Homo sapiens: one gene and its partner. The protein of the gene in region 2 interacts with the protein of the main gene of each other region in a biochemical or structural test. Each region holds a gene or a part of one and is shown on either strand. Other genes may lie near its edges. The genes, in order: RASA1 and SLC9A2.

Region 1 (3,833 bases), on a different chromosome or scaffold from region 2:
AAATAAGTTTTTGAAGGAAAATTAAGTGCCCAACAGAACCGTTTCTGCTGTGTTGGTTTAGTGTTGTTATTTAAAGTGGAAGAATAATCTTTCTTATGTTTTTAACAGTTGGCATGGACTAAGAAAGAACATTCTCTTTCATAAAGAAGTAACGTTTTCCTGCTACTGAAGCAAGTGGCAGCATGGCTTAACCCCATATGATGTCCAAAACAGTTCAGATAAAAATAAAATAAAAAGAGCAAAGTGTTAGAGCAAAATGTGACAATTAAAAATCCAAGAAAATTAAGCTTCACCTGACGAAGGCGTTTATTGGATGTCCCTGGACTACTTTTCCGTAAATTGCAAAATGCCTGCAGACCTTTCATCCAATCCTGCAAAGAAAAACAGCACTTCAAAGAAATATACACTAGTTTATTTGGCTTCCAAATCATCAGTTAGGTTTTTTTTTTCAAATTCAACAATTTTTTCCTTCTCTAGACTGCCATTTCTATTCTCAGACTATACTGTACTTCATAACAATAACCAATAATAAAATAACAATAACATAACAATAACAATAATAAAACAACCAAAACAATTGTAATTCTGTATAAATCTTTGTTTGAATTTATGTATGAAACACATCGAGTGGCCATTAATTAGCCAAAAAATCAAATTTACATTAAAGAAACTATTTCTCCCAAACAGATACTACCTTGGGGAAATTAACTGTATAATTAAGCTGTTATACTTGAGGCAAGCTTAGGTGGAATTTAACTTGATACACTTTGTGAGAGGGGGAGAGTGCTGATTGTAAAACCAACTGATAATGTGATGACCGATCCCATGACAAGCATATTAATCTATACTTTAGACCATGATACAGGTAGAAATGTATAAGGGGATTTGGGTTATTTTTAAGCTTCTCAAATATAACATTAGATTTTAAAAATCATTTTAGCCTAATATTCAAATCAAATTGCAGCCATATTTTTAAAATGTTTATCTAGTGCTTTGGGGAAAAGGAGAGAACTAAGGTTTATTAAAAACAAATCTAAATATTCACTTTGGTTTTTACATATTTCTGGAAAGCTGTGTACTATTGCTTTATTCAATTATGTCTTTAGTTTGTTGGCTATTTCAATGAAGCTGAACTTTATTAATATCTAGAGACTGTCTTTATATTACAGCAAATTAAAACCAAATCAGTTACCATAGCTTTTTGAAATAGAAGAGAATAACCAGAGACCCCCACAGCCCAATAAATCAACAAAAACTGGAAATACCATTTATGGAAATACAGAAATATTATGTATAAATACATTAAAAAATGTTCTATGTTAGGCTTGCAAAACATGCTGAAATGTCATTATGGTATGTGACATTTTATTCAGAAAGAGGGACCATGGTAAAATACTTAGAAAATAGGATACTGAAGTTTAAATTTCTAACTCAATTTCTAACATTTAAAAAAATCATGTAAGTTACCAAAATGTTTTGAGCACTACCTTTCTCATCTAAAAATTAGGGATACATAGCCGTAAAATTTTATGTGCATTACATGTGAAATGAGCATTAAATGAGATATTTGATAAAGATGTGAAATATGACGTTCAGTTGTAAGCTCATTCAGGTTTATTCTGTGAGTCTCACGCTAGGATCTAGTTTTAAGAGCATCTTCCTCATATCTAGGGTTGGCAAATTATATTTCCAACAAAGCCACTTTCACTTCTTAACCACCTTTAAGTTCCTTCGTTAGAATATAAGCAGAAATTTAGCTGTATTTGTATAAAATACAACCATATACTCCAGAAATATTAGGGTTCAAAGAAAGCAAAAAAATTTTTTAAGAGACAGTGTCTCAGTTTGTTGCCTAGGCTGGCTTACAGTGTCTCGATCTTACTCACTGTAACTCAAACTCCTGTGCTAATGCAATCTTCCTGCCTCATTCTACCCAGTGGCTGGGACTACAGGCATAAGCCAGAACACCTAGCTAATTTTTTACTTTTGTTATAGAGGTGGGTTCTCCCTTTGTTGCAAAATATTTTTTAAAGAGTGTTTTTTAAAAAATATTATTTCTTCACACAATTACTTAATAGACGCTATAAGAAGGACACTGCACATGGATTAATAGCTAATCTAAAGTAGACATTATATCTCGACTTGGCTTAGAGAATAGATTCCTAAAATATCTTTCCTTGTGTTGACTGACTTTTATTTTCAGACATGGAGTTCAACCAGTGAAGAATAATGCTTGTTAGCAAAACTAACTGGTTAACTGGCTTACCTTTGGATTATACTGAGATGACCTATAACCTTTATGCAGAGAGGATTTTAAATGAGCATTCTCAGTTGGCCTCAACATCATAGAGTATTTAAAGGTCAATTTAAAATGGAGTTTTCATTCCTAATAACCCTTCACTGTGTTTGTTTTTGCATTTCTTTCAGAAAACTTTTTACATATGAAATCTCATTCCTTAAAATAAGAGATGATTAGATTTCAGGCGTTCTGTCACTTTATCTTGAATGCGATCATTTTCTATTCCAGTTAATAAGAAAACATGGGCTAACATAAAAGTATACTGTAGTTTGAGAAACAGTAATCTTACCTCTGCTTGTTCTGGAGTTTCTCCTGCAAAGTAAAAGATGTAATGTTCTTCACTAAAGTGCTGAACTACTATCTGAAAACAGTTTGGCCTTTAAAATAAAAACAAAAATTATTAGGAAGCTTAATAAAAAGTAGCAAAATATTTATACCAGCTTCCAAAACACTCACAATAAATAATTAACATAAAATTATAATTCTTAAAGAAATAATACTCCATTGTACCAGATCATTACTAAAAAAAAGTCAGCTATATATATTTTAGAAAACTTTATGTCAGCACTATTAAAATGTTATCAGTATTTCAAAGTGTAAACTAAAGAAATTTCAATTAATTGTAAAATACATTAGAAATAAAGTTACAAACAGATTGAAGCTGAACTGCTAGAACTGCACACAGCTAATTTGAAAAGCTTTATATGCACTGGAAAAAGACTAGAAATGTTCTTAGACCAAAAATGTTCTAAGTAATTATCTCTAAGGAGATTGTAGGTGATTCTGTATTTTCAAATTTTTCTAAACTGATCATTTTTCTTCACCTGTTAAAATGGAAACATCATCTCTTCATACATATGCTTGTTCTAGAGTTTAAGTGAACAGTTGTGTACAACAAATGTTCTTGTCTTCCTTTAGTATTATTTCAAATCATTTGATATGTAAGTACAATATTAGGTAATAATTTATATCATTTTGGAAATGTGCTATCTTTCCAACTAGACTTGAAAATATTGGTAAAATCTTTATTAAGGGCCTGCATGTTTTTGGAACTCAATAAATGTTACTTCTGTTTCCTGCTTTAAAGATTTTATATCATGCTAATGTTAGGAGGCCATAGCAAAAATACACAGAGGACAAGCTTAACACTTATTAAAGATAAAGACTATATTTTCATGCTTTGAGAATGTCTTAAAAGTAATCATGGAAAATAGGAATTGGAAACTTCTAATCCTAAATGTTGCCTGTATCAGACTAACCACCCTAGTTGGATAAAACTTAAAATAGTAATACAAAACAGAAAAACAACTGTTTGAAAGCACTGGAGAACAACCAAAGCAGCTAAGATTTGAGGAGCCAAGATCATACTATAATTAACCCGACATTCTCCACATCTTTTCCGTTCAAGGCAGTTGCCAGTTCCTAAGCTGGCTGTGTAGCTGAGACGCTAAGCAGAAAATAGTTCCTAAAAGGCTAAAAAATTAACTACAAATCCAGTAGTTTGATAGTGCTAGGAGAAAAAAGAATGAATTTC
Region 2 (3,833 bases):
CTGGGTGTTTCAGGGAGCAGATGGGTGAGGCAGATGTGGAAATATGGTTGGATAAAGTGGAACTTGGAAATAGAGTCCAAATTTTCAACGAATAGTTTAGCTTGGGAGCCACAACTAATGTTTTGTTTCATTTTAAATTAAAAGGTACTGTAGGAAAAAGGGTCAGGTAAGAGTCACGTGGATGAAATGGGGACACCTTATGGGGACACCAGCTAAGAAGCTGCTGAAACAGCCCCCACATGAGCAAGGAGGACTCCTGACAAGCTGTGTGGCCCGTGTGCCACTTCACCTCCCTGTGCCTCAATTTCTTTATCTGTGAAATGGCGACAACAGTAACACCTACCACTCACTGGAGGATTAAATGAGTTAATGCATGCAACACACTGAAATGGGGCTTGGAAAATTGAGGACACTCTCTACTCTGTAGCTGTGTTGTTAGCAAATTATTAGAATAAGGTGCTAACAATGGAAACGAAGTGAAAGAAGTGGCTCAGAAGAGAAGAAACTATAGCACTTTATAAATAACAAGGAGGGTGAGGTCCATTTTTAAAGTCTAAGCTATAAAACTATTTCTTTAAAACAAACAGCAATCAATTCATTTCTTTAAAATTAGTCAACGTGTATTTCTTTGTATCCAAGCCCACAGCAGCAGAACTCCCAGGGGACCCCAAGGCTTCAGCCATGGTGTCCAGGAGGATAGTAGGACCCTGAAGAGGGATGGAGAGAAGCAGAAGGAGAGAAGATGCCCAGCATGGGACCTGCTGAGCCCAGTGTCAAGATGCAGCCTCCAGTTACAGCACAAAACCAGAAGGCATCCTGTTAGCCAAAGGTAAGTAAATATTTTGCTACATAAATTATTCTTACTCGCTGACGGATTTGATAGAGATTTCTTGATAAGAGTTCTCGAATTTCATCAGTTTCACTGGACGTGACCTTCCTTATTTTTTCTTCACGACAATCACTGTGAAAGTTTAGAAAAAGAATATTTTACCTTTCAACAAATATTAGAATCATTGATTTTCTTCCTTAGAGATATAAGTATTTAAGACAAGTCTTAATTTGTAAAAATAGCACTTAGGGATTATTCAATAACTTAAAATAATTCCAAATTCTGTGACTCTTATTTCAGTTTCAAAATCATTCATGGCAAGTTTAACAATTCACAAGTTTTCAGAATCTATTCATGTCATTATGTTTTCAGGGAAGAAAAACTACAATGGCTTATAATGCTACCTCACTTTATTATTTCTAACACTCCATAAATAAAGTAAAATAGAATAGTTTTCTCCAACAGAAACCTAATTGACTTCAATTTACCATTAAGTTTTCATATTTTAAAAACCTCATCATAAATATTTGCAAACACACCATTTATAACATGTATGTATATCCAGTCAATCCTCATTTGTGGGTTCCATAATCATGAACTCACCTCACCTACTTGCTAATATTGATTTATAAACCCAATATCAGAATTTCAGTATTTTTGCAGTTATTCTCAGACATATGGAGAGTGACAAAAAATTTGAGTCACTTGACACAGTTTCCCTGAAGATGTTGAACAAGGAGACATCTGCTTTCTTGTTTCCACTCTCATACTATAAATAATGTCCTTCTCACAGTCTATTTAGTGACATGATTTTTTAATATTTTTATGTTATTTATTGGTGGTTCTGCTGCTTTAAATGGCCCCCAGGCATTGCTGAAGTGCTGTCTAGAGTTCCCAAGCACAAGAACCCTGTGATGTGCCTTATGGAGAAAATTTGTTAACTAAGCTTGATCATACATGAATTTATAGTGTTCTTGACCATCAATTCAATGTTAATGAATTAGCAATATATATTAAATAAGGTGTCTGTAAACATAAACATACATAAAATAGGTTACATATTGATTGGCTGATGAAAATTTTGTGACCACAGGCTCAAAGGAACCTAACCTTTATGTCCCCATAGAAAAATGATTCAGTATTTGCAGCTGGGCACAGTGGCTCATGCCTGTAATCCCAGCACTCTGGGAGGCCGAGGGGGGCGGATCAATTAATAATAATTTTTTTAAAATTATTATTACCAGTTTCAAAATACTATCAATGCCTATTTAACAATACTAACTTTTATTTGCAAGACCATACTTACTTTAGAGATGCAAATGTAGGGACAGTACTTATCATCCCAGTCTCTGCCATCTCAATGGCATGTTTTATTTCAAGCTTTTTATATAAAGATACAATACTTGACTTTGGTTGGTTTTCCCGAATCAAAAGCTTCCGCAGATATTTATCATCAAACTTCTTAAACCTGTAAATAAAGAAACTTTCAATAAATTAATACTGGATTGACTAAGAAAATAGTTGTTGTTTTTACCAATGAAGTCATTTCTGCCATTCCCAGGAAAATACTTAGTAGCAGCATTTAGCTAATCTGGTCATTTTATATATTTAGTATGTGCCTACCTGTATATATGTATATGTGTATGTGTATATATGTATATATGTGTATGCGTATGTATATGTATGTGTATGTATACATATGTATATATACATACACATACACATATATGTATATATGACACATACTGCTACATTTTTGTATATGACCCTGATGCACATAAATCTAGTATTCATTAATTACAGATTAAAATACATGTTTCTGTCTTTACCATTTCTCTACTTCTGCTTTTAGCGAAATTGCTCAGAAACGTTATCACTGTTTGTTTTCCCCAATTCCTCTCCTCTGATTCTCTCTTGAACATTCACATTGCCTCAATACTCCATTAAAGCTACTCTTATCAAAGTGGTCTGTGAACCTCATGATATAACTGCAGTGGGCAATTATGAATCCTCATCTTTCCTGCCCTCACTTGTGTAAACTATTGTCTTCATTTGGCTTCCAGGACACCACCCTGGGGTACCCCAACCTCCTTCTCACCCTCCCTCTCAGTTTTGTTTTCTTCTTTTGACCTGTTAATGTAGGAGTGCTCTGGGCCTCGGTTCTTAATCCTCTTTCATACCGCCACTCACTCCCGTCACCATCTTGCCCAGTCTCCTAGCTTTTAATAGCATCTCTATGCCAATGACCCCCAGATTTGTATCTCCAGCTCCAACCTCTCGGCCAAACCCCAGATATGAGCTTTTGGCTACTTACTCAACATCTGCAGTTGGATATCTATGGGGCATCCCAAATTTAACATATTCAAACTGAACTGATATTCTGCCAGAGTCCTCCCATCTCAGCAAACGATGACTCCACCAGGTCAAAAATCCTGGTGTCATCCTGGATTCTTCTACTTTTCTCATGTTCTATGTTATGGGCTGAATTGTGTCCCGCCAAAAATTCATATGTTAAAGTCTAATCCCCAGTAGCTCAGACTATGACCACATTTGAAGATCTAGTGTTTACAGAAGTGATTAAGTTGAGGCCATCAAAATGGGCCCAAATCCAAAATGACTGGTGTACTTATAAAAAGAAGAGGTTTGGATTCCAAAACATACAGAGAGAGGGAAGATGATGTGAAGAGGCAGGGAGAAGACAGCCATCTACAAGCCAAGCAGAGGGGCGTAGAACAGAACCTTCCCTCGTGGCCCTCAGAAGAAATGAGCCCTGCTGACACCTTGCTGTCTGACTTCTAGCCCCCAGGATTATGAGACAATTCATTTCTGTTGAGCCACTCAATCTGTGGTACTTTGGTTATGGCAGCCCTAGCAGACTAGTACTCCAAATCTTTGCGCCATCAGCAATTTCTGTTGGTTCCACATCAAAATACATACAAAATCCAGCCATCTCCCACCTCATCTAATGCTATCACCCAGGTCCAAGACATCATTCTCTCTCGGA

The links.
Region 1: the proteins of SLC9A2 (region 2) and RASA1 form a complex in vitro, tested with the Homo sapiens proteins (one study listed by BioGRID).

What each region holds. Positions count from the first base shown.
Region 1 is NC_000005.10:87,368,656-87,372,488, reverse strand, and holds part of RASA1 (ras GTPase-activating protein 1), read right to left. Parts: intron 2,677-3,833; coding exon 2,589-2,676; intron 372-2,588; coding exon 294-371; intron 1-293. UniProt on the Homo sapiens protein: Inhibitory regulator of the Ras-cyclic AMP pathway. Stimulates the GTPase of normal but not oncogenic Ras p21; this stimulation may be further increased in the presence of NCK1.
Region 2 is NC_000002.12:102,699,534-102,703,366, reverse strand, and holds part of SLC9A2 (sodium/hydrogen exchanger 2 precursor), read right to left. Parts: intron 2,298-3,833; coding exon 2,136-2,297; intron 962-2,135; coding exon 865-961; exon of another isoform or gene 640-864; intron 1-639.